6 separate regions of the Homo sapiens genome follow, and regions 1, 2, 4, 5 and 6 are each reported to be linked to region 3. The links are microRNA targets in miRTarBase. Many come from high-throughput screens and were not tested one by one. Region 3 holds a microRNA gene; each other region holds the end of a gene's coding sequence.

Region 1 (4,108 bases), not on the chromosome of region 3:
TGACTCTGCCTCCCACTTTGTAAAGGATCTCATAGCGTTAGCACTCCAGAGAGAACACTTTGGGAAATGTCTTATAGGAAAAAGGAAAATATTTCCAGGTTTTGGAAGAATTGTTGGTGAACAGATTAAAGGAAAACCTAATACTGTATGAGTAAGTTGTTATGTATAAGAAAGAGAAAAGATTGTTTTTCTCTTTAAAGAAGTAGCAAACAGTAGGTGTTTTCCATGTCTCCAAAGAAATACAATGAATTTAAAATGCTTTAGGAAAATGAACTGAATGCTCTTCTGCTCACTCTACCCCACACAAAATGCTCATGAGATATCTATTTAGCATCTTCCCAAAGGAGAGACTTCCCGAGTGTGTCCAAGACTGGGCCATTATTGGAGAGTGATGAAGTGATGATCCTTTAATACTATTCTCTGCTCCATGAATATTTCCAGATACTGACCTTGGTGATAACCTGCTCTTACCTAGACTTCCCATTTTTCCTACTCAAGAAAATTGAAAATGTAATAATATTAACTTTTCTCTTTCTCTCTCCCGCTCCTCTCCCCTTTCCTTCTCCATTTCCCCATCCTGTGTCTTTTCCCTTGTCCTCCAGGAACCTTCTGCATCATTTCACTGTGCACCTGTGTGGCCGGGATCAACTTTGAGCTGTCACGCTACCCACGCTACCTGTACGGACTCCCTGATGACATCAGCCATGGCTATGGCTGGTCCATGTTCTGTGCATGGGGGGGCCTGGGCCTCACACTCATCTCGGGATTCTTCTGTACCTTAGCCCCTTCTGTTCAACCTGTCCCGAGGACCAACTACCCTAAATCCAGACCCGAGAATGGGACAGTGTGCTAAAAAACAAACCCATACATACATATATATATATAAATATATATATATAATATACATATATAAAACAAAACAAAACTAAATCAAGACGATGCCAGTGCCAAGGTAGAGTTGAGTTGGCTCAGGCACCTGCATCTCGCCGGACTTTGTGTTGCCTCATCTCTGAGATGGGGAAAGTTTTTCCATCCTGTGGCTCTTCCATCAGTTCTTGACTTTTGGCTTCATGGTCTCTTGAAGACAGAGCAAACACCACCACTTGCGACCGCGTCTTGATCCCCATCACTGGCGAGGATGGGGTGGTGAAGGGACAGTGGAAGGGGTCTGAGGCAGCACAGATGTAGAGAAGGAAGTGCCACCCACTGGGTCAACGGGAGAGGACGCCACCCCTAACCAGTCATATCACAGGGTAACAAAGCCCTCAGTTCCTAGAATGTAACCAAATTATTGAGGCCATTTTCAGAATCACTTCTTCTCCTGCTCTTCCTGTTCGGACTTCCTTCCCAGCCCACCAGCAACACACAAGGAGTGGAAGAGAAAACAAACTGAGAAGGACGTTTTCTCTTTGCTGCCAAACTTTTGGACCATGTTTCATAGGTGGGAAGGGAAGAGAACATGCTGAGAGGCAAGATCTGCATCAATGAAAGGACGCTTCGGTGGATGCTCAGACAACCCAGTCTTACCTTCCAGCTGCCTTACACCCAGTGAAACAAGAGGCCACCCTGTCCCCAGCCGCACCTGCACTCCCTGGGCAGACTGGAGCCTTGGAGTCATGCTGTGATGTGTGTGTGTGGGTGTGCGTGCATGTGTACTTTGGGCGGTTTCCTTTTTTTCTTTTCTACCTTTTAAATGGAAATACTGCATTATGACTGTTGTCTCTCTTATCACTGTAGTGGTTTCATGGCCCCAGATAGAGGCCCAGAGACCTAGAAATTGTCATGAGGGACAGGCCTATAAGGGTGCCAATTCTGCAGCTACAGATCCCTGGAGTGGTGTGTGTGTGCGTGTGTGTGTGTGTGTGTGTGTGTGTGTGTGTGTGTGGTGGATGTTTCTTGAGCGTGGGGTTTTATTGTTTGTGTTGTGTTTTTTTAAATTGTTTCTGGTATAGCTGAAATTTCCAGAGGGCAGAACCAAGAACAAAGCCACTGGGCCAGAGGACCCCCGTGGTTCTCCACATTACAGCTCTGGGACTCTGCACGATTTAGTCCTCTAATTTTGGAAGTTCAAGACACAGCTGGGCACATAAGCCATGAGAGAAGAGGGGGAACACACAGTTCAGGAGAGAGAAGAAATGTTGCTCTGGTTGCTGTTGTACAAGAACATAAACCAACAAGACCTTCACTCCCCATTATAGAAGCTGTCCTTTGTCACTGGACATCTCCCCTTTCCCTAGGGGTGACCTCTGTACAAACGAAAGGAAGTGGGTCACATGCAGAGAGAGCACCTCCATTTCCCATGGGCTCAAGTTTGTATGATATTGTGTAAATTAATGCAGAACTCTTGACTCTTTCCATCCTCTTCCTTTCCCTCTTGATATTCAAGGCCATGAATCCCAAAATAACAGTCTTAGTGGCTAGCACCCAAACAGAGGTGGAATAAATCCACCCCAGTGTCTCGGGCTCATTTGAGCAAATTAGCACTGCAGGTGCTGGCAAGCAAAGTCAGCCAGAGAGTTGTGAACGCTGTAGGGGTGGGAGTCTGCTGGAGTGGGCTGGAGCCGCTCACAGTCATCTCAGTGAGCCTGCTGGTGCCCAGCAGCCCTGGGGAGGCCAGGTGAGAATCCCTGAGCTGGTGTAGCCATGGTCAACTGTGTAGCAGAGAATCCCCTTGTTTCATAAACAAATATGCTTTGGGAGCTTTGCCAGGCACTCAGCAGCCTTTCTTCCACTGCTGTGTAATCTGTTTCATTTACACGTCTTCCAACCCATCTTCCTACCACTCTCCTCCTTTTCTCACCTACTAACCACTTACCTTCTCTCTCTTCTATCTTCCACCCTCATCTGCTCCTTTGAACTGCGTGTATGTAATTCATATCTGGATATGATATGACATCTGATGTGCATGAATGGGGTTGAATGTGGATCTCTCTGTATGTGTATCTCTCTGGTGCATTTTGTGTACGTTTGTGTCAGTACACACCTGCACACAGGTGTGGGTGCCCTACTCAAGACTTCCTTACCGGGGACTCTGGTCAGCTTCTGCAAAAGGTCTCATGTGTGAGTTCCCTGTGTGTGGGTGTGCTGGGCGATAGGGTAAGGTGTGCAACGGGAAAAGTTGTTAGCTTCCAGTTGGGGTTCTAAGGATTATTTTTAAAACAAAGGATTTATTCTATGAGAAGGGAAATAATTTTCAGGAAAACCCAGTTTTTCAATTGGGCATTTTATTTCTAATTTTCTTTGAAAAGTTAGATTTCTCCCTTAAGGGGAAGGGCATACTTGGGCTTAAGGAAAAGTGAAGAAAAGTATCTCAGATTGAGAGGCCTTTTGTCTTCCTTCCAAGCGTCCTGAAGGGGCTCTGCCGAGGAAGGGACAGACAGGTTCACAAGCATCCATTTGGGGGAGAGGGCTTGTCTATGACCACACTGAAATTCCAGCTTTTTTCCAGTTGCAGGAGAGAGGGGAAAAATTCTAAATGGGGAAATTTGCTATGAACCATTTAAACTTTTTGTAAGTAATCATGTTTGAGGATGCTGGCTCACAGACCTATCATTATTTATATCCTCTTTTTAAAAAAAAATCCCATACTTTCAATGAATAGATTATCTGCTCTATCCAATTATTGTCTTTGTGACAGACATTTAGCAAAGCTTACTGCATCCCTTTGAAACCTTGAGAGTTCCTGAAATGTTAGAAAGCTCCCAGGAAAGACGTAAACAACCTGGGCTCAACTCACCAGCCCAGAGCAGGGGCTTTGAGTGACTTCTTTGATAGCAGGACCAGATAAATACGAACACACTTTGGGATCTGATCCTGCTGGGAAGCAAAAGACGCCCAGCCACATGACCAGGATAGAGGCCCCTTTCAGACGGCAAGTCCTGGCCAATGGGAGGACTTCTCAGGTGACCTTGATCCCTCTAGCATAAGGGCTTGACCACAGATTAAAACATGTGACTCCAACCAGTTACGGAAGCTTTCTGGCTGTGAGGTAGCTGAGGGAGATGAGGAGGAGGAAGAGAGGAGCCTTGACTTGTGAGGCTCTGTAGGTCAGACTCTGCTAACTCCAAATCAAAGTGGAACCCAACCTTATGAGGGCATTTAGGGTCAA
Region 2 (4,108 bases), not on the chromosome of region 3:
CACAGTGCTGGGATTACAGGCGTGAGCCACAGCACCTGGCAACACATTTTGAAAAAAGAAAAAAAAAAAACAATAATATATTTTAAACCTAACATCTAAAATATAATCATTTCAACATATTCTTAAGATAAAATTGATAATGAGAGTTTTACATTATTTTTGCAATTTTTATTGTGATAAACATACATAAAATAAAATTTAACATTTTAAACATTAAGTGTACAATTCAGTAACATTAAGCAGATTCATATTGTTGTACAACCATAACCACTATCTATTTCCAGAACTTTTTTTATCATCCCAAACTGAACCTCTGCACCCATAAACAATAACTCTCCATCCTCCCCTCCCCCAGCCCCTGGTAACCTGTATTCTACTTTCTTTCTTTATGAATTTGCCTATTCTAGATACCTTATATGAGTGGAATCATATATTATTTGTCCTTTTATCATCTCGCTTATTTTATTTAGCATAATGTTTTCAAGTTTCATCCATGTTGTAGCAGGTACCAGATTTTTAAGAATGAATAATATTCCACTGTATATATAAACCACATTCTGTTTATCCATTCATCTGTTGATGGACATTTGGGTTATTTCCACCTTTTGGTTATTGTGGATAATGCTGCTATGAACATTGGCACAGAAGTCTTTGGCCTACTTTTTTTTTTTTTTTTTTTTTTGAGAAGGAGTGTCACTCTGTCGCCCAGGCTGGAGTGCAGTGGTGGTGATCTGGACTCACTGCAAGCTCCGCCTCCCTGGTTCAAGTGATTCTTCTGCCTCAGCCTCCAGAGTAGCTGGGATTACAGGTACCCACCATCATACCTGGCTAATTTTTGTATTTTTAGTGGAGATGGGATTTTACCATATTGGCCAGACTGGTCTTAAACTACTGGCCTCAGGTGATACACCTTCCTCAGTCTCCCAAAGTGCTGGGAATACAAGCGTGAGCCACCGTGCCCAGCCTGGGCTACTTTTAAAAGTTAAAAATCTTAGGACAGAGGAAAGGGGAGAGGAGATAGTAAGAATATATAAACAACCTATCATAGTGGGAGACAGTAAGGGATTAGCTATTCACAGAAGAGAGAGAAAGAAATCCACTATTCATTAAATTGTCAATATGGCTATGTTGTTAGGCATATGGAAGTAGGCTGGAGGATCCAAATTGCGGTAAAGCAACGGACAGGAAGGTAGAAGAGGACTGAGATTGTGGGGAGAGACATAACAGAGTTTAACCTCATAAAATGAGGCACCTGACCTCATTATTTGAGGGTGGGGCCCAACACCTGAATCTCCACTTTACAGAGCATGGGTACACTTTCATTTCTTTAGAGAAATCACCCATTTCTTCCATTGTGTTTTCTCCCCTTAGCCCTGGCCTATGCACATTGATTAACTGCATGACTTTGGAAGCCACTTTACTGCCTCTGAACAATGAAGCACAGTTGAATGCTCACAGATCTATATGCTAGCAGAATCTGTCATCAGTACACATCAAGTATCTGTGGTTCCCTCCTCCTAAGAGAGAGCCTACAGTATAGAGTCTCCCTCATGGTTTATCTACCCAAGTCCTGCACCCAAGACTTGTTTAGTGAAGCTACAGAGGGAACATATAGGCCCAATGATTGTATTCAGATCTCAGCTGCTCACTGGATCTGCTCAAAAGTACAGTGGGAATACCCTACCTTGAAATAAGATGCATTCAGCATCCTTACTAACGTGTGAACCATTCCAGTCAGGATTCCTGCACTGGTGAGAAAGAAGACTAGGAAATCACTCACATCTCCAATTCTGATTTATAGGATTCTATAAATGTAAAATCAATAGGCATAACACTCAGCAAAATTTAAAATAAAATTTTATTTTATCTTATACTCAAGTTCAGACAATAGCATGTGGTGTACATTCAAAATTTTTGACAGGTACAGAGCACATTAAAAAATGAAGACATGATCAAGGAGATGTAAGAGACAAATAGACAACAACATTCTCCCTGAATCTGGAAAAAAGCAAGCAATAAGATCACGAAAGGCAGCTGTAAAACAGGATTATTCTGCATGTGTTGCCCACAACTAGGGCAAGGTTATCTCTCATCACAAGTACAAAGCCATTGATGTTAGTGTGTAACAGAGAGAAAACAGAGGATTTGTACAGCTGAGGAAATAAATGGCAGATGTTACACAGGAAGCAATATAACATGGTCATTAAGTAACTGTATTCAACCATCAAATTTAATTTTAAATCTTGGCACAGTGCCCACAAGCCGTGTGACTTTAGTCCCCTTGATAATATAAACTTCATTTCTCTCACTTATAATAAAGAGACACAAATGGTACCTACTCCATAAAGTTACGAAGAACACATAAAACCTGTGAAGCACTTATAATAGTGCCAGAACATTGTGAGCACACATGAGATGTTCATTGGCATTATTATTAAGGGCTTATATAAATTCCCAGGTAATGCATAATAACAGTAGAGACTGTGACAAGCCCTGGCTTCCATAAATTGTCAGCTTCATTTTCCCTGTTTCATTTGATATGTTATTCCATTTTATGCTTTGAGACAGGGTCTTGCTCTGTTGCCCAGGCTGGAGTGTAGTGGTACGATCGTGGATCACTGTAACCTCAAACTCCTGGACTCAAGCGATTCTCCCACCTCAGCTTTCCAGGCAGTGGGGGCTATAGGTGCACACCACCATGCGAAGCTATCATATTCCCTATTTAAAAAGTTGTACACAGGCCGGGCACAGTGGTTCACACCTGTAATCCCAACACTTTGGGAGGCTGAGGCGGGTGGATCACAAGGTCAGGAGATCGAGACCATCCTGGCCAACATGGTGAAACTCTGTCTCTACTAAAAAATACAGAAAATTAGCCAGTCATGGTGGCACGTTCCTCTAGTCCCAGCTACTCGGGAGGCTGAGGCAGAAGAATTACTTCAACATGGGATGTGGAGGTTGCAGTGAGCCGAGATCGCGCCACTGCACTCCAGCCTGGTGACAGAGCGAGACCCCATCTCAAAAAAAAAAAAAGTTGTATGTGACAGCTAACCATAATAAAAAAAAAAGAAAGAAAAAAGAGAGAGAAAGTAGGGACAACACTAAATCATTAGTAATTTGAGCACATTTCCTCCAAGGCATATGCTATTTTTCAACTTGGTTTCAATCATGTATCTTTATTGTTTTTCTTAATGTTATAAGCATGTTTGGTTTTATTGTAGTCTTTAAATCATGTAATACTTCATTAGTATGTATTATTCCACATAATAGTCCTTTAGGTAGATGTACCATACTTTAGTTTACTATTCCAGCCAGAGAAAAGTACTGATGTGCTTATGGGCAACTGGAAATAAGCTAGTGTTAGAAATAATTATGTTTATCAAGCCAATAAAGATAAGGAGAAGTGTAGTGTTAAGGGTCACTTGCCTCCCACAGCCTGCAAGTCCTTGTCACAGCTGATCTTGAACATAGCCAGCACCCGTGTTCTGATCTGTTTGGTTTTGGCACCATAGATGATGGGATTGATGACAGGAGGCAGCAGCAGGTAGATGTCACCCATGACAACACGCACAATGGGATGAAGGCTGTTTCCAAAGCGGTGTACCACTGAGAGGCCAATAAGTGGCACATAGAAGGCGAGTACCACACCAATGTGTGACACACAGGTTCCAAAGGCCTTGGCCCGCTCTGACTTGGAAGGCAGTTGCAGAACCGTTCGTATTATCAGAAAATAGGACAAGGAGATGAACATTACGTCCACGCCCATGACCAGCAGAATGGCAGTAAGACCATATACCACATTGGGCAAAGTGTCTGCATAGGCCAACTTCATTACATCCTGGTGGACACAATAGGAGTGCGAGAGGACATTGGAGTGGCAGAAGGCCAGCCGCTTGATCAGCAGAGGCAGTGGGAAAAAAAAGAGGGATCCGCGGACCACAGCCACGATGCCAATCTGGGCTGTTACTGTATTGTTGAGCACTGCAGCATGGCGCAGTGGGTGGCAGATGGCCACATAACGGTCAAAGGCCATGGCCAGCAGGATGGTGGATTCAATGGCTGAGAGGGCATGAATAAAGAACATCTGGGTAAGACAGGCCTCAAAGCT
Region 3 (4,108 bases):
GCAACCAGCCAGGTGGCAAATGCATCTATCTTTTTTTGGCGTTGGTGGTGGTGGCTCCTAGCATCTAGCTCGGGGAGCTGCTGAACACTCTATAATCCCCAGGACGGCCCCCACCAGGGATGGAAGCAGCCCTGAAGGTCAGCAGTGCTAGGGTGAAGGCCTGGGGTGCACAGATGCCGCAGGAGGGAAGCCTGGGAGAGCCGCTGCTGCTCCCCTGCCCCGCTTCATTTCCCAGCATGCCGCTTTTCCACACACGACACAGCCCACCCACTTCCTGTTGGTGGTCTGTCTCTCCCCTCCAGAAGCAAGCTCCATGCAGAAAGGGCTCTTCCCTCTTCTGTGACTGCCGTGTTCCACCCACATGGCTGGGCCCTCGGGAGGGCTCGGTGTCTAATGATCCCATGGGGAAAGGGGAGCTGGAATGGGGCAGAAGCCACCAGAAGGAAGGTCAGCCTTGGAAAGGAATCACAGTGGGTTTTCCCGAGACAGAGGGGCGAGTGGCAGGTGGGGTGACAGAAGGGAGGCCAACCCTGCAGCAGGGCTGGGGGCAGTGAGGGCTGCAGGGCCTGGGGGCAGGGCTCCCATGAACTGTGCTACGGCACAGCCCAGGCATGGGGACACCCAAAAGAGAGGGCTGGGGTGCCAGCCTTAGCGGGAACAAGCAGGGAGCCCCCCACACCCCCACCTCAAGCTATGTCTCAAGGCCTGAGCCCCTGGGGCGTGCGCTTGCGTGTGAGTGAAGGCCTCTCTGCTCTCTTCCTGGCCTTCCCCAGCGCCCCTGGCCTCTTGCCCCATTCACACAAGGCCTTTTCCGCCTGGTACCTCAGCTGTGGGGCCTGGCTGGTGTAACTCATGGGGCCCCAGTGGGGGGCAGAGGGGCCACTGGTTTCCTGGCCTGCTGTCTCCACCAGGGTCTGGATCCAGGCACTTCTGCTGACAGCGCCCAGCGCGGGGCCACCATGTGCCCAGCGGCCTCCTGCAGAGAGGCCCCTGGGGAAGCTCCCCACTGGCCCCCTTTCCCCTGCCTAAGGGGAGGCCACAGCCACGGGAAGGGCTCAAGAATGGACTTCAGGGGTCCCTGAGACCCCAGAACTTTCAACTCTGAGTGACGTTCTTGCACTGGGAAGGGCCACTGTTCCTGCAGGTCCGGACTCTATTTTGGAGACTCCGCCAGCTCTAGCAGGAGGGAGGCTCACCCTTGCTTCTGCCCTCAGGACAGATGTGGGGACACTTTGCACCCCAAGTCCTCCTAGCCATGCCCGGCACCTCCCACCAAGTCTTGTCCACACAGGGAGCGTCAGGCCACCCTGCCTGTCACACCCCAGTTGCCTTCCTGTCTTTTCATCTTTTTGCTCTGTCCATCCACTCATCCATTGGTCCGTCCAGCAATAACCTGAGACCTGCTCCGTCCTAAGTGTATGAGAGAGTTCTGCCCTTTGGGGTTTAGTCTGGTGGGGGAGACAGGTGTTAAGACAGTGAGCCCGCAACTCCCCGCTGCGCTAATGCCATGAAGGCAGGGCCAGCCGCAGCAAGAGGAATCACAGTGGGGGCAACTGGTTCCACGCAGGAGTTGAGGGTGCCATGTTTCCAGCATGACCCCCAAGCAGCCACCATGAGTCAGAAGCAACCCAAGACCGTCAGACACTGCGCACTTGCTTCGAGGACTCTAGCAAGCAGAGCTGGGCTCTATGAAGAGTAAATACAAGAGCAAACATCCACCACTCTTTCTACACAAGTTTATTAGGCACCTGCTGGGTATCACGTGTGGAGACAAGCTGGACAACGTAACAATCCGCAAGGCAGCTACGGCCTTGCCCTGGAGCTCCCAGTCTAGCAGGGGTGGAAAACAGGTAAGCCCCCCAGCGGAAGCCCCAGACCTGGCATGCTGTGAGGTCGGGGAAGGAGCGGGGGCTTTCCCGAGGAGGCGTCAGTGAGGGTGGAGAGAGCCTCCGGAAGGGGAGCGGGCACCGGCGAGGATGGCACCGCATCCTGCAGGTGCTCGTGGCTGAGGGTGGGAGGTAGGTAAAACTCCCGGCAGTGGGGACCCACGGGAGACTGTGGCAGAGGCGCGGCACGGCGAGTTCACCATTCCCCAGTGCCCGGCCGCCCCAGGGGACTCAGCAGCTGACATGACAGGGGCCCCTCTTGTATCGACTGTCCTGTCTCCACTCCTGGCACACAGCTGCGGGTGCAGCGCTCTTCAGAGCCCTTCAGGAGAGCCTCCACCCAACCCTCTGAATTAGGCACAACAGGATTGAGGGGGGGCCCTCTGGAAGGGTCCTTTCTCCTCACCTCCCACATGAGGCTGGGCCTGATTTCACAATTTCACTCAGGATCTTCCCTCCTCAATCCTCCCAGCCCTGTCCCATCTCAGTGGCCTGTGGTGGACCCCAGATCCACAGACACAGGCCCTCTCCGCACAAGGGCTCACGTGGTCCCCAGCCAAGGCCCCTACAGCACTTTCTACGGAGCCCTCTTCCCAAACATGCACATCCAGCTTGCCTCTCAGCCACCCCGCCTCCATCTCAGCTCCAAGGAGGCCTTGGCAGCAGGCTCGGGGCGCCATGGAACGGTTCACTGCGTCTCTGCCCTGGCCTCACGTGCTGCCGGCTGGCCTTGCCATTCATCTTCTGAAGGCTATTCTCTGATGGCTCTGCTGGCCACCTTGATCTGAGTGGCAGGTCTGTGCTAACAGTGTTTTGTGTGGGGCCCTGGGAGAAGAGTCCATGAACCACTGCCTAACTCAAGTGCTGCCACGGTGAAGCACCCCTGCCTAGTTCTGAACAGACGCAGCACATCAAAGGGGAGCCGGCAGCTCACTCCTGAGCAAAGCAGCAGGCTAGTTCCTCACAGTCAAGGAAAACCACTGGGAGAACCTCCCTGCTTCTGCTGAAGACCTGAGCTGCTTCTCCCGGGTCCCCCAGTGCTGACAGGCCTCTAGCATCAGGTCCATGTGGCTGATTCTGGAGATCTTTAGGAGGATGGGACTGGCTGTTGAGAACTGTCAGTATGAGTCTGTCTGGCTACTCTGCCTGGGAACATTCACTGAGACATAAAGAAGATATTAAATAGCTGGAAAATTAGGAACCCAGCTAGGGCTGGAGGGGAGGTCTTAGAGGATCATTCTGTAAGTGCTGCCGGGGAAGGAACAACGGTGAGGGCTCAGGCTGGCTCTCTCTAGGGTCCTCCACAGGAGGAAGAAGACCACAAATCTAACCAGCCTAGCAGCCCCAGATACACAGAGCACATGTGGACAAAGCTGTGGCTGCCTGCATTCCATGGGATCATCTTGTATGCAGCAGTAAGAAGGGTCTGTTCTATGACTGCTCTGCTGCCTTTTTTTTTTTTTTAACAGCAGCTGGTTTGGAGTCTCCCACGTATTGCCTGAGGTGGTTTGGTGGTAACCAGCTAACAAAAATCCTTTCATTTTAGGTGCCTGTGGGTGGTGTGGTCGCCACCAAGAATGAGTCAAGCCATTTCTAAAGAATCCACAGTAGGCTCTGTCTGACAGGGTGCATCTGGGAGGGCCTGCCGGGCCTTTATTCAACACTAGATACGCCCCATCTCCAATTCTAATGGACATGTGCAGAAAATGTGATACAGAAACCTGCAGAGCAGCCAGTTCCCAGCGGACGTCAGAGATCAGCTCTTACCTCAAGGATCTTGCTCACCAAACTCTCTTTGCTTATCAAACCTTTCTTTCAGAGGGCAAAGGTTAACTCCCATCTAGAAGAGGTTGAAGTACTATGGTTTTCAAACCAGGAACGTGGCACTAATGAGGCGGAGCTCTGGAGAGGCACAGCTGCAGAAGGTTCCAGGGACCCTTGGAAGCAGACAGGGACCCTTGGGAGCAGACAGGTTTGGAATAAAAACAAAGAGAAAAACAGGGCAAAGGATTAACAACAGAAATGAAACCAGGCGCACACACACTCACCTGCGGCATGATCGCCTGCGGTCACACTCCAACTTGATATCTTGCTTCCAACGGCCAGAACGGCCATCAGTGGAACTTACTTTCACGGGCAATCTTTAGGCTGTTGTTTATTGTTGATTTAAGAGAGAAGCAGTTATGGTTTTGAAAACATGGCCCTTTTTCTGATGGGGGGAG
Region 4 (4,108 bases), not on the chromosome of region 3:
TGTACTACCTTGCCACATACCTAGGGTGCCAGCTACATCTTGCTTTTTACACATTAATTGCTTTACACATCTCAGATCAGATCTAATATGCGTTTTCCCACTAATTTTTTATATTGCCCTCTCCTCTAGAATATAAACTCCATTAAGGCAAGGACTTTATCTGTTTTGTGCCATATTGGACACCTAGCACACACAAGAGTACTCCAATGTAGGTGATGAAAAGCTACGTTGAATGAATTAGTCAATTTATTGTTTCAAGGATCTGTTCTAAGGCTACCTCTGTGATGAAGCTTTTCTTCATTCTCAGCAGGATGATTGCTCTCTCCAGGATGATTTCTCTCTCCCTTTATGGTTATAAAACCAAATGTGCAACTATTTTAGCTCAAACATCATATTATCCACATTTACTTACATATATGTCTTTCCTATTTACTTGAGCTCCTTGGTGGCACGGATACTCTTTATTAATTCTAAATGCCCACCACCAGGCTGGGAGCATTAGGTTCACACCTGTAACCCCAGCACTTTGGGAGACTGAGGCAGGCAGATCACTTGAGGCCAGGTGTTTGAGACAAGCCTGGCCAACATGGTGAAACCCTGTCTCTACTAAAAATGCAAAAATTAGCCATGGTGGCATGCACGTGTAGACCCAGCTACTCAGGATGCTGAGATGGGAGAATCACTTGAACCTGGGAGGCGGAGGTTGCAGTGAGCTGAGATAGCACCACTGCACTCCAGCCTGGCCTGCAGTAAGACTCTCAAATAAATAAATAAATAAATAAATAAATAAATAAATAAAAATAAAAATAAATGCCCACTATCGTACCCAGTTCATAGTTGGCACTCAATAACTTTTATGAATGAATGAATGACTGAATAAATGAGTGATGAATTAGGTAGAGGAGGAAACAGAGTAATTTGATTTGGCCTGGGATCACCAACACACACACACACACACACACACACACACACACACGCACGCACACATCAATGAGGAATATGACACACAAATCACCCTACATAATCAAAAGATTCTTCTTGGTAAGAGACAGATATTAGAGTGTCTGTGTTGACCTTTAAATCACCTTTGTAAAACACAGTTTAAAAAGACAGTCTGGCTCATAAAAGCAAATAGGTACATTGTAAATCCACAAATTTGAGATTTTTATAGTGAAAATACTAATAGGTTTTGACTTTTAATGAGCTTCTGCTCTTATTATTAAAAAGATTCTACTCATTCTAATAAAAGAACTGTGATTTGTGGGTATCTTCTGATATATTTTAGTTGATTCTTAGCTTCAGCCACCTTAGCAAAAAGAAAGAAGAGGTTTCCCCAGTGGAATTTCAGATAAGTATGCATACTGCAAGAGAGGCAGAGGAAAAATGATAATTTGCTTTATTCATGAATCTGTTCAGATGCAACGTATGCTGCCCAGGCCCATGCTGAGGTTTGGATAAGTCTATTCCTAGGGCCCACACCTTGGTGACCACTATCTGTTCTAATCAGATAATCTATGGAAGCCAATGACTGTCTTCTCACTTGTTAAAAGCATTCACACTCAGGATGGGCAGAGCCTAGCAATTAAAAGCACAGATGGTATGTTGCTAGTATCAAAATTACTTTAGAAACAAAATTGGGAAATTAAAATGTAAAGCAACACATAAGAACTAGACACCTCAAGCATGTAATTGTATATTTATTTCTCTTTTTAAAGAACACTCCTTAATGTAATTCAATATACAAACTTGGTTTCACAGAATTATAATCCACTATATAGCACAAAGATAACCCAGATTGTATGTGTGCGTGCACACATGTGCGTGCCTGTGCACATGTTGCTGCACCCCTCCCTCTCTTTCACTCTTCTGGACCTACAAATGCTCTTCCCACCTTCAACACTAACCAAAAGCCATTGTGAGTATTACATACAACAGACATCCTCCCACGAGTTCTTTGCCCTTGAAAGATTCTTTTCCCCATTCCCCCTGAGATAGCCAGGAGTGTGACACTCTTCCCCTATGAAAAAGGGTAAGGTGACCTCCCCTAACACAGATGTTAACCCTGTTCCCATGTAAACCGGCTGACAGGAAGAGCTGGGGAGCAGGTCTCCATCTCCTTTTCCCCCTTCCACACCCAACCCTCAGAGTCCAAGTGCGACCCTCTGTGTAGCCTTAGTTCCAGTCACCATCCTGTGTAGCAAGAACTAAGGAGATTGCTAAGCCCAGGTCTTCTCCATGAGCAGCGCACAGCACTGCCTGCCAAGCCACCGGGCCGGCCGATAACCAAGCTCTACACAGTCCCATGTGCTTTGTCACCTTAATTTTTTAAAGACACCTAGCATAGGTCTGTGGCAACCTAGTGTCCAACTGAGTTACATAAAATTGTACCAGTGATGCACTTGTACATATTTACATGGGGTGGAATGTTTTCCCATATTTTTAGATGAGTATATAGATCAACATGTTCACATAAGACCAAATACTTTTAATATTATTTATAACTGATTTATAAAGCTTTGAAAAAACTCACAATAGCACATTGTTTACTTTAATGCTTTACGGTACTATCATTTTAAAATCACAATCAGCACTTAAGTTATAGTCAATCCAGCAAACAAGAGACAAAAAAATATACAAGAGTTAAGAACTGACTGATACATCCTTTATCTTTTTTTAACTAATGCATAAGTGCAGAATAAGATACTCTAGTTTAAATATCTTGTTTACAATGTACATTTTTGTTCTAGTTACGCAACAGTAAATCCCATGCTTCACATAGAAAAGCAATCCACAACATTAAGAAAAAATGTACAATTTATGAAACAAAGTAAATAAATATTAGTATTACAGAATCAGAGCTGTACATAAAAGCTGTTCAGTTTTAATCATATAAAAATATGTTTTAGTGCAACCTCACATATATATTGATGCTGTTTTGCTTTACATCATTTAGATCCAAGTGTCCAAAAAAGGAAAGAAATTACATTTATTACAAAGCAGATACACAAATTCTAAAATATGTACAAATTACTGCTAAAAAATGCTTATAAGAATATAAGCAAAGTAAAGAAAAGGCACAAACATCTGTACAATTTTAAAAGTACCAGACCCAATAGGTTAATTTCAAATTTTGTTTTGGTCAGGCTCATGATGACTTGTTAATTTACCTAATTCTTTTGATATAACAAAAGTATATATAATAGCAAACTACTGTAACTTAGGACAGGCATGCTATAAACTGGATTACCTCCATTTCTAGAAAAACAAAAACAAAAAAATGGGAAAATGTGGAAATGAAAGTCTCCATGCATCATAGATCAATGTAGCTGACTCTTTTCTGATGAAGGATCTTTGCTTTCCTCTGTGCTTGAAGATAATTCCTTGCTGCTGTGAAAGTCCAACTGCTTGTCATCCACACAACTCTTGCTGTAAAACGTGGAGTGAGCTAATGGAGTCTGTGATGTACCAAAATTGTCCTTTTCACCATCATGCAAGTCAGGGTGGGTGGCTGAGGTACAGGGCTGACCTGGCTCAGGTCTACTAAAGTGTCTAATGCTAACATGTGCACTTCCCAGGGGGTTCTGGTGGGGCTCCTGCACCCGCGCTGGCTGATCTGGCCCGAGCAGAGCTGCCTCTTCCGTGGCAATCCGGAGAGAGGCAATGGCTTTTGTACAAGTCTGTATATTTTCCTCCTGTTCCCGCTCTGTTGCGTTTAGGCTGTCTTCCGAAGTGCTCTGTTTCATCAACAGCCGAGGAGAGGAGGGAGTGCTAGGTGGACCAGATGACTGCAAAGCGTGAGGACCTCGCTTCTCATGCTGCTTAGAAAGCACATAGGGGTCCTTGGAGAAGGACTCCCCTGACGCGCCTTTCTTCTCCTCAAAGCCCTCCATTGGCAGGGGCAATGTGGGTGAAGGATGTAAACTGGAAAGGGCTGGCGGCATGGAGTGAACCATCTGGATCCCACCAACGGGCACCATGGGGATAGGGGCTCGCACTTGTTGCTGAGAGTGGAGTGGAAGATGACTGAAGACATAGTCATTAGGACCCTCAGGGAAAAGGCTGGAGCCTGGATGTTCATAAGCACCTTCTTGGTCTCCATAGAGACTGA
Region 5 (4,092 bases), not on the chromosome of region 3:
GGTTTTCAGGTGGAGAGTTAAAATAAGAATTAAGTGATGGTTTATACTTTCAAGCCAGGAGATTCAAAGTTGGACACATTCTTGTTAGAATACACCAATGGTGGGACAAACACCAATGGATTATCTACTAGATGCTGAAAATGAACACCTACAACTGCAATGTGCCTGTCCCCTTAAAACCAGCCCCAGACTCGTTTGGCATCACCTTTGAGATGATCTCCTCAGTAAAAATGTCAACGCTGTGTTTGGACAAGAGAGAAGTGCCTTTCAGGGAGTGACTGAACATGTCAAAGTTCTGGGTGCTGGCGTTAAAAACACAATATTGCAGATGTACAGGTAGCTTCCAAATCTAATGGAAATATTATCATGACATACTTTCTAGTTCGTTTGAGATTCAGGGGAAATGGATGTCGCATGGTATAGACAGTGAAACCCCTCCACAGTCCCGGGGTTGGTGAACAGGAATAACACTTGTTTTAAGGACTACTCAAGTCTATCAGTCTTTCTCTGTAGGGAGTTATGTAGCAGGGCTCTTCCATTATCTCAAGGATATCTGAATATGGGTAATAACAAACTGTCATAACAAGATTCTTCTGTAGATCTTGAGCCCCTGTGGCGCATTTTGGAAAGACAGGACTACTGAGAAAATTAACTCTTTATTACTTTCAATTGTTAAGAAAGAAATCTCATTATATCCCCAATGATAACGTTTCTGTCCTTACTCAAGAGGTCTGGGTGTGGGTAACAGCCACCTCCCAACAACGTCAGAGGTCCGGGTTCAGAATTCCTCAACGCGACTCAGTCACTGGCTCAAATAACTACTGTGGAGTAACGAGAGGTCATTTTAACACAACAGAGACTCCAATTCAACTCTCTTCTGTTAACACAGTCAGAGTTCTCTTCTCAATGCTCTCACAAGTTTTAAAAATGGAGAAGCTATAAAATAATTTTGTTAGAAGAAAAGTAATTTTCTTCTGAAATGGAGTAAAGCAAACACATACCCAAGGATCTTAAAAAGTTTTTTTTTGTTTTTACAGAATATATGTATGTATTTGTGTGTGTGTGTGTGTGTGTGTGTGTAGTTACAAACACTATTTATAGTATAGCTAATATGTTAACTTCATCGCAGTGTCTACAAAGTTGTGGATCCCAGTCTTGGTGCCAAATGCATATAAAAAGCTCAAAAGCTATTATGACTATACCATGCAAATTTATATCCAGAAAACCTTGGGAAGGAGACTGCAGCTCTTTGGAGCCCCATGGGGTCTCTGCCTTTGATATTTGGGTACCTCAACTATGCATCAAAAAAGTTTTAAATCACTTTTCTCCCAGAAAGAATTAATGTCACAGTTCTGAATAGTATAAATTATACACTTAAATAGACCATTGACTGTTTTTGTCCACATCCATTTACATTTTGGGGTCCCTCTTCTGCATGTGGACCTCACACCTTTAATTACTGGATACAGAAAAAGATACCTGAAGTATTGAAAGGGATAAGGTCTTTGCAAATGTATTTTTTTTCTTTAACATGATAATAATGATAAGGCCACTTAACAAGGTTTTTCCCAATCTGTTTAACTTTTAGGATCCCCCATTGTTACCCATGGAAAAAATGGTCAGAGAAAAGCCAAAGCCAAAGAAATCCCTGGCTAGTCTCCAGATGAAAATAAAACCAGAGAGCAGCGATTAGGAGGAAAAAGATAGGAATGAAAGAGGGAAAAGGGTCTAAAAGTAGGTAATTGCCTCTAGCGTGAGATTTTGTGGATTATGTTTTATCTGATGGTGGGTTTTGAACTGTTGCAGATGCCCACAAATTAAAGGTTGTTACGGCCACCAAAGAAAAATCAAGTAGTGGTCAGCTCATGGGGATAGTCCACACCACACGCATCCTCGGGGAGGGTGGTGCCTCTACCTACATCGAGACAACTGGGGCCTACCATTGGAGCACTCTGGTCCTTGGTTTTGGATAGAACAGAGAGGGTGAGGCATACGTGGCATTTTGGGATAAAGTATTAATTTAGCAGTTCTTCCTGCAAATTTTGCTTTTTATTTTTTTCTCCAAATGCTCAACTTCACTGTGACACCTGTTTGCACAACTGTAGTCATTTCAGTTTATGGATGCCTGTGATAGAAATATTGTTTACAAAAAATATATCATCTCTTTTTTTTTTCTTTAGAAAGATCTCATCTAAATAGTAAGTTAAGGTTGCGTCTATGAAACCGGTGCACCTTGTCTTGTTTCTACGAGCTTTAAAAAGTCCAAATACTGATGAGGCTGTGGATCAGAAGGAACCAACAGTGACTGTGTTTGCTGTCAGGTTGCCCTCCTTTGCCTCAGAGAACGGTCATGGGTCGTTGGGTGACGCGTGGTGTGTACGGGTCATGTTCCTGCAGAATCCTAGTCAGTCTAGGAGTAGTTGGATGTGCTTATGAAATATGTCAGATACAGAAATAAAGGCATGAGGATGATTCTTAGTTTCTGAAATTGAACAGTAGAAGTGTTTTAGCTTCAATCTTAATTTCTAGATAACAGAAAGTAGTTACATCACATAAAGGAAAATATGACATCGCATGCTGCCATGATAGCAAGCGTAAGAAACAAAATCTTGGTAAATATACATATATATGCATATTATGCAAATATATTTTCTATTAACATACAATGTTATAAGAATGATAACATAACTGCAAGGGGGAAAATCATCCTAGATGGTTTTACCTTAGAGTAACGAATAACCTGAGACGTCTATGCTTTCTGTTGGATATCAGGCCTAGAAATCCATACGAGATGTAGAGCACATTTTCAGTGATTGAAATGTCACTGGCCAAACGTGTCACTGTGTTCGCACATGACAGTGAAGCTGGATCCACTCCAAGTGAACAACAGAAACAAACTACACACTGTATATTAGAGTACTTACAACGAGATGCCATTCACTCCCGATGAGTTTTCAAAAGACGGTCGTTCAGACATCAACGTGGGATCTATCTATGTTTCAGACAACAGGTAAGCACACTGCCAGTGGCTCACCCCAGCCACTAAACCATTGCAGAAAACGTATGCCCGATGAAAACAAACCCCATCACCAGAGAAGCCAAGAAGCCTTTGCTTACTAAACTGAACGAGAGGATATGAAGTAAGTGACTCATTTTAAACTAGCAATACCACTGTATGAGTTTTCAAAGATTAACTAAGAATGTCTTTCTGATTTTTAAACTAAAACATCTAACTTATGATAATACAAGACACATTTGGGGATGATATTGTGTTTCACGCCCTCATTCTCAAGGCATAATATTTAGATGATACTTGTCCCTTTCAATTAAAAAAGAAAAAAACTATGACTTTCTTTAATATGCATCCTGTGGTAAATTGTCCATAGCTGCAAAATGTATATATGTATGTGTATTTGTCTTCCATACACATGGGCACTGACTCCTGTGTGTATAAACATATACACATACATCCTCATATACACGTGTATTTTATATATATGCTGAGAAAGTTCACATATATATACAATTGCGTATGTATATATGTGTGTGTCTGCTTGTGTGTCTGTGTGTGTACAGGTATAAAAACTTGACAGGCAGAGTAATATTTCACTCAGTGTTAAATGAAGTCTTTGAAAAATCAAGTACAGTCACTCAGTTAACATAGTACAGCCAGTAAACTAAGTTGAAAAGAGAAAAAGTGAATGGAAACACGATCCTGGACCATCTGTCTATGGCATTCACATCGGTTAGATCAGGTATTTTAATTTTGAGCTGTGAAGACCTCCTCCGTAGATGGGTCTTCTTGTGCGGGAGGCTTCTGTCCCCCAGGAATCGCCCATGCCCTTCTCGAGGCATGCTCTGTTTCCTGTACTGGATTCCTGAGTTGTCAAAGGATATTGCTGAATTCCTGGTATCGCCAATGCCGCCTGAGACCTCATTCATTTCATTGTGAACTTCCAGCGATGTCAACAGAATATTTCCATGAGCATCCACCTAATTGGACGGAAAATGCACATGGTTAGACAGCCAGCAGCATAATTTCCCTATGCAGATCCCGGACAGAATGATGTCATGCCATCACATGTTGCATGT
Region 6 (4,000 bases), not on the chromosome of region 3:
AAGCTGCTTTGGAGTCATTTTCATGACCACAAGTCAGTCAAGTACTCAGTACAACTTAGACAAATGCAACAAGTAAACCTTGGAGTAGATGATTCTGGATTTTAAAATACAGATATAAAGGATATTTTTGAGACAATTAGAGGAAAAAAAGGTGATATTTATGATATCACTATCATATTTATGATAGGTGATATTATTGAATGAATGTTAACTTTCTTAGGGATGATAATGGTATTCTAGTCAGCTACAATGTCTTTTATCTTAGGCAGTGAGTACATGCTTAAATTTTTAGGGAAAAAAGCCTCATGTCTGTAACTTGTTCTCAACACTTTTTTTTTTTTTTTTTTTTGAGACAGGGTCTCACTTGGGTTGCCCAGGCTGGAGTGCAGTGGTGTGAGATCAAGGCTGTCTGCAGCCTTGACCTCCCAGGGTCAGGTGATCCTCCCACATCAGCCTCCCAAGTAGCTGGGACCACAGGTGTGTGCCACCACACCTGGCTAATTTTTGCATTTTTAGTGGAGATGTTTCGCCATGTTGTCCACACTGGTCTCAAACTCCTGGGCTCAAGCCATCTGCCCGCCTCAGCCTCCCAAAGTGTTGGGATTACAGGCATGAGCCACTGTGCCTGGCCTCAACGAGTTAATTTTTGAAAAGCATACATACACAGGGAGATACAGCAAATGTGGCACAATGTTAATTGATAAGAAGTGTGAGTAACTTTCAACTTCTCTGCATATTTGAAAAATTTCAAAATAAAATGTTTGAAGGAAATGCTAAGAACACAACAACAAAACCCAAATCTTTTGAAATTTAAGCATCAACATTGCTTTTGGCCTCTCTCCCTCCTAAACCTGCAGAAAAGTACCTCCCATTGCCATGTTCACACCACCACATTTCAATCAGGTTTGTGTTTTAAAGTTGAAAGCCACAGTCATCCCTTGAAAAACACTCTATACTTTGCTCTCTTAGTTGACCAACCGTTAATTTTTATTTGTGCAAATGACATTACATTAGACTTTAGAAGCTTAAGCAAATAAAAATGTGCTTCCCAATTGCTACGTGTAATTCCTTGAGATCAACTATCAGAGACTTTAATCTGAGACGACTTGAGGTGATAAGGAAGCAACAGAAGTTGGCAGCAGTCTTGCTTTAATCCTCTCAGAGTTGCCAAGTTCCTGGCAAAACCTAGTTATTTGTTATTGCTGTGAAGGTAACGCTGGAGCCCAAAAAATGATACCCCAAATGAAGGCCGCAGAAGCAAAGTTTCTCTGCCCTCCTGTCTGTTGACCCTGATTCTTCCCCAGGTGAGCCATAGAAACTAGAATTCCTCTTCTCCAAGACCGGCCATAGAAGCCAGAATCCCGTTTCCTGAAAGCCAGCCATAAAACCTAAATATATTGCTCTTAAATTTCCCCCACCTTTCTATGTAACAGCTGGCCATAAAGAAATTAAGACACTCATTCCAGAGGGATCCCACCCCCACACCCAGCAGAAGGAAATGCTGCAGACAGGCCTTGGTGAGCTTCCCCATGTAGTCTATTCTGATAGCATTAGGACCATATCCTTTTTGTCCATATTTCTACATGTCCAATCATATTTCTACATCGACTTTTCATTGAACATAAGCATAAAAATGAACAGTTTTCCCTATATCTTTGGGTCTTCATTCTGAAGGCTACCATGTCAAGTAAACTATAAGTGTGTTATGCTTTTTCTAGTTAACCTGTCTTTTGTTATAGGGGTGTTAGCCATGATCCAATGGGGAGGGAAGGGATCACTCCTTTCCTCAAGTGATCAGGCAGTTGGATCACTTGAGGTCAGGAGTTCAAGACCAGCCTGGCCAACATGGCAAAAACCCTGCCTCTACTAAAAATACAAAAATTATCCAGGTGTGGTGGTGGTGCATGCCTGTAATCCCAGCTACTCAGGAGGCTGAGGCACGAGAATTGCTTGAGCCCAGGAGGCAAAGTTTATGAGATGGTGCCACTGCACTCCAGCCTGTCTAGTCTGGGTGACACAGCAAGACCCTGTCTCAAAAAAAAAAAAAAAAAAAAAAAAGTTAACGAACTTAGGTACCTACTTAGGAGAACCAAAAATATATGGCCACACAAAAATTTGTACATGGCTGTTCATAGCAGCATTATTCATAATAGCCAAAAAGTAGAAACAACCCAAATGTTCATCAACTTACCAATGAACAAAAATGGCATATCCTTACACTGGAAGAGTACTGTCAGAAAAAGTAATGAAATACTGATAATATAAACATGGTACAACATAGATGACTCTTAAAAACACTATACCAAGTTAAAGGAGCCAAACCCAAAGGTCACATATTGCCTGATTCCATTTACATGAGATGTCCAGAATGGGCAAATCCATAGAGACAGTTTATTAGTATTTCCCTGGGGCTGGGAGCAGAGGGGTTGGGACTAGGGAAATGACTGCTAATGGTACAGAGTTCTTTCTGGGGTAAGGAAGATGTTCTGAAAGTAGATGGAGATGGTTGCACAACTTTGTGAATACGCTAAAAACCACTGAATTGTTCAATTTAAATGGGTGAATACTATGACATGTGAATTATATCTCCATTTTTTTAAAAAAAGTTAATGAAAAGCAACTTTCTTCTTATTTCATTTTTAGGGACAGGCAGGGGAGCCCAGCGGCATGCTGGATATGAATGTATCTTCAGCCTTCAAGTTACCATTGGCCAGAGGGAAGAGTGGCCCCAAACTCTGAAGAGCGCTGGCAAGGCTCCCCATCTTCCTCTCCCTAGCCTCCACAGGAACATCACAGTATGGCTTGGCATTTTTTTTTTTTTTTTGAGACGGAGTCTCACTCTGTCACCCAGGCTGGAGTGCAGTGGTGTGATCTCAGCTCACTGCAAGCTCTGCCTCCCGGGTTCATGCCATTCTCCTGCCTCAGCCTCCCGAGTAACTGGGACTACAGGCGCCCGCCACCACGCCCAGCTAATTTTTTGTATTTTTAGTAGAGACGGGGTTTCACTGTGTTAGCCAGGATGGTCTCAATCTCCTGACCTTGTGATCTGCCCGCCTCAGCCTCCCAAAGTGCTGGGATGACAGGCGTGAGCCACGCGCCCAGCCTGGCTTGGCATCTTTAGGGCAGATCTCAGTATGCCTTGCATTCCAATTCATCTCCAGAATCCTACACTTCCTCCAAGGTCAGTCCTCATGCGAGTCTCCAACCTCATCCCCACTTCATTTTCCTCATTGTACTTACCATCTTTTATTCGTATCCCACCAAATTTTGGCTTTGTTAGCTATACTGCAAATAGTAGATGCTCAATAAACTACTAGTGAATGAATGAACTTGGAAAAAAAAGCTTACACAGAAATCTGTACTGGATGTTATTTAAAAGATGAAATTTCATGGTTCAAATGTATTTTTCTCCCATAAAAATATTTTCTCTTCCATTTAAATATATACCTAATCTTTGAGAAATCTTGCACAAATGGCATTTTATTAAAGAAAATCTAATTTACAAAGCTTTGTAAATTTTAAGAAAAACATTCATAGATCATAAACAAAAATTTCAATATGCAATATTCAAATTTACAAGAAAATAAGCACAAACTTTTAGACAGTGCAGTTATTGCTGCACTCCTTTAATTCCTTATCCAGAGCCCAAAAAATGTAGACAAACCCTAAAAATGTAGCAGAAGCATTTCCGCACACTGGTGTCCAGAATCTAGTTTGTGCAGAAATGTTTCCACTAGATTTATAGAGTACTCTTCAGAAGAAAGAGGCGAGGGCTCGTCATTTGGTCACCCTTTGGACATTTTGCAACTCTTCAATGGGTTTCCATTGTTGGTTGATTGTTATAAGCTGAAGAGAAAAAAGGAAAAAAAAAAAACCTTTTGTTAAAAATTTGACTTTCATTTGCATGTCCCTCTTTCGGATTTGTCCACACTCCCCTTTAGAAAAAGCATCACCATTGTGTTTGTACCTACCTCTTTCCATATCTAAAACATGCACAAAA

The links. The annotated mature microRNA hsa-miR-298 reads AGCAGAAGCAGGGAGGUUCUCCCA and lies in region 3 at 2,868-2,891, opposite strand. An mRNA with a match to its seed (bases 2 to 7 or 8) in the 3' UTR can be bound and repressed. Matches are read on the target gene's strand: a 7mer-m8 pairs with bases 2 to 8, a 7mer-A1 pairs with bases 2 to 7 and ends in A, and an 8mer does both.
Region 1: miRTarBase lists TMEM178B as a target of hsa-miR-298. Seed matches in the 3' UTR shown: 7mer-A1 at 1,811-1,817 and 8mer at 3,040-3,047.
Region 2: the mRNA of OR51E2 is a reported target of hsa-miR-298. Seed matches in the 3' UTR shown: 7mer-m8 at 2,926-2,932.
Region 4: the mRNA of HIVEP2 is a reported target of hsa-miR-298. Seed matches in the 3' UTR shown: 7mer-A1 at 2,690-2,696.
Region 5: miRTarBase lists GABRB3 as a target of hsa-miR-298. Seed matches in the 3' UTR shown: 7mer-A1 at 3,052-3,058 and 7mer-A1 at 2,393-2,399.
Region 6: miRTarBase lists COXFA4L3 as a target of hsa-miR-298. Seed matches in the 3' UTR shown: 7mer-A1 at 3,718-3,724 and 7mer-m8 at 3,677-3,683.

The regions. Positions count from the first base shown.
Region 1 is chr7:141,469,934-141,474,041 of GRCh38, forward strand. It overlaps TMEM178B (transmembrane protein 178B), which reads left to right. Exons shown (of 4, transcript NM_001195278.2): 4 at 603-4,108. The coding sequence ends at 853. Among named protein-coding and RNA genes, the nearest start is that of AGK-DT, 79 kb to the right of the region's middle.
Region 2 is chr11:4,678,331-4,682,438 of GRCh38, forward strand. OR51E2 (olfactory receptor family 51 subfamily E member 2) reads right to left here. Exons shown (of 2, transcript NM_030774.4): 2 at 1,841-4,108. The coding sequence ends at 3,419. Among named protein-coding and RNA genes, the nearest start is that of OR51C1, 17 kb to the right of the region's middle.
Region 3 is chr20:58,815,413-58,819,520 of GRCh38, forward strand. MIR298 (microRNA 298) reads right to left here and starts at 2,901; the gene lies at 2,814-2,901. MIR296 (microRNA 296) reads right to left here and starts at 2,282; the gene lies at 2,203-2,282. It also overlaps GNAS-AS1.
Region 4 is chr6:142,749,790-142,753,897 of GRCh38, forward strand. HIVEP2 (HIVEP zinc finger 2) reads right to left here. Exons shown (of 10, transcript NM_006734.4): 10 at 1,680-4,108. The coding sequence ends at 3,318. Among named protein-coding and RNA genes, the nearest start is that of HIVEP2, 190 kb to the right of the region's middle.
Region 5 is chr15:26,544,142-26,548,233 of GRCh38, forward strand. It overlaps GABRB3 (gamma-aminobutyric acid type A receptor subunit beta3), which reads right to left. Exons shown (of 9, transcript NM_000814.6): 9 at 1-3,993. The coding sequence ends at 3,652. Among named protein-coding and RNA genes, the nearest start is that of LINC02248, 150 kb to the left of the region's middle. RefSeq lists an enhancer at 2,127-3,326.
Region 6 is chr15:45,432,794-45,436,793 of GRCh38, reverse strand. COXFA4L3 (cytochrome c oxidase associated subunit FA4L3) reads right to left here. Exons shown (of 5, transcript NM_197955.3): 5 at 3,454-3,846. The coding sequence ends at 3,778. MIR147B (microRNA 147b) reads right to left here and starts at 3,744; the gene lies at 3,665-3,744. LOC107987223 (a long non-coding RNA gene) reads left to right here. Exons shown (of 2, transcript XR_001751510.2): 2 at 2,644-3,325.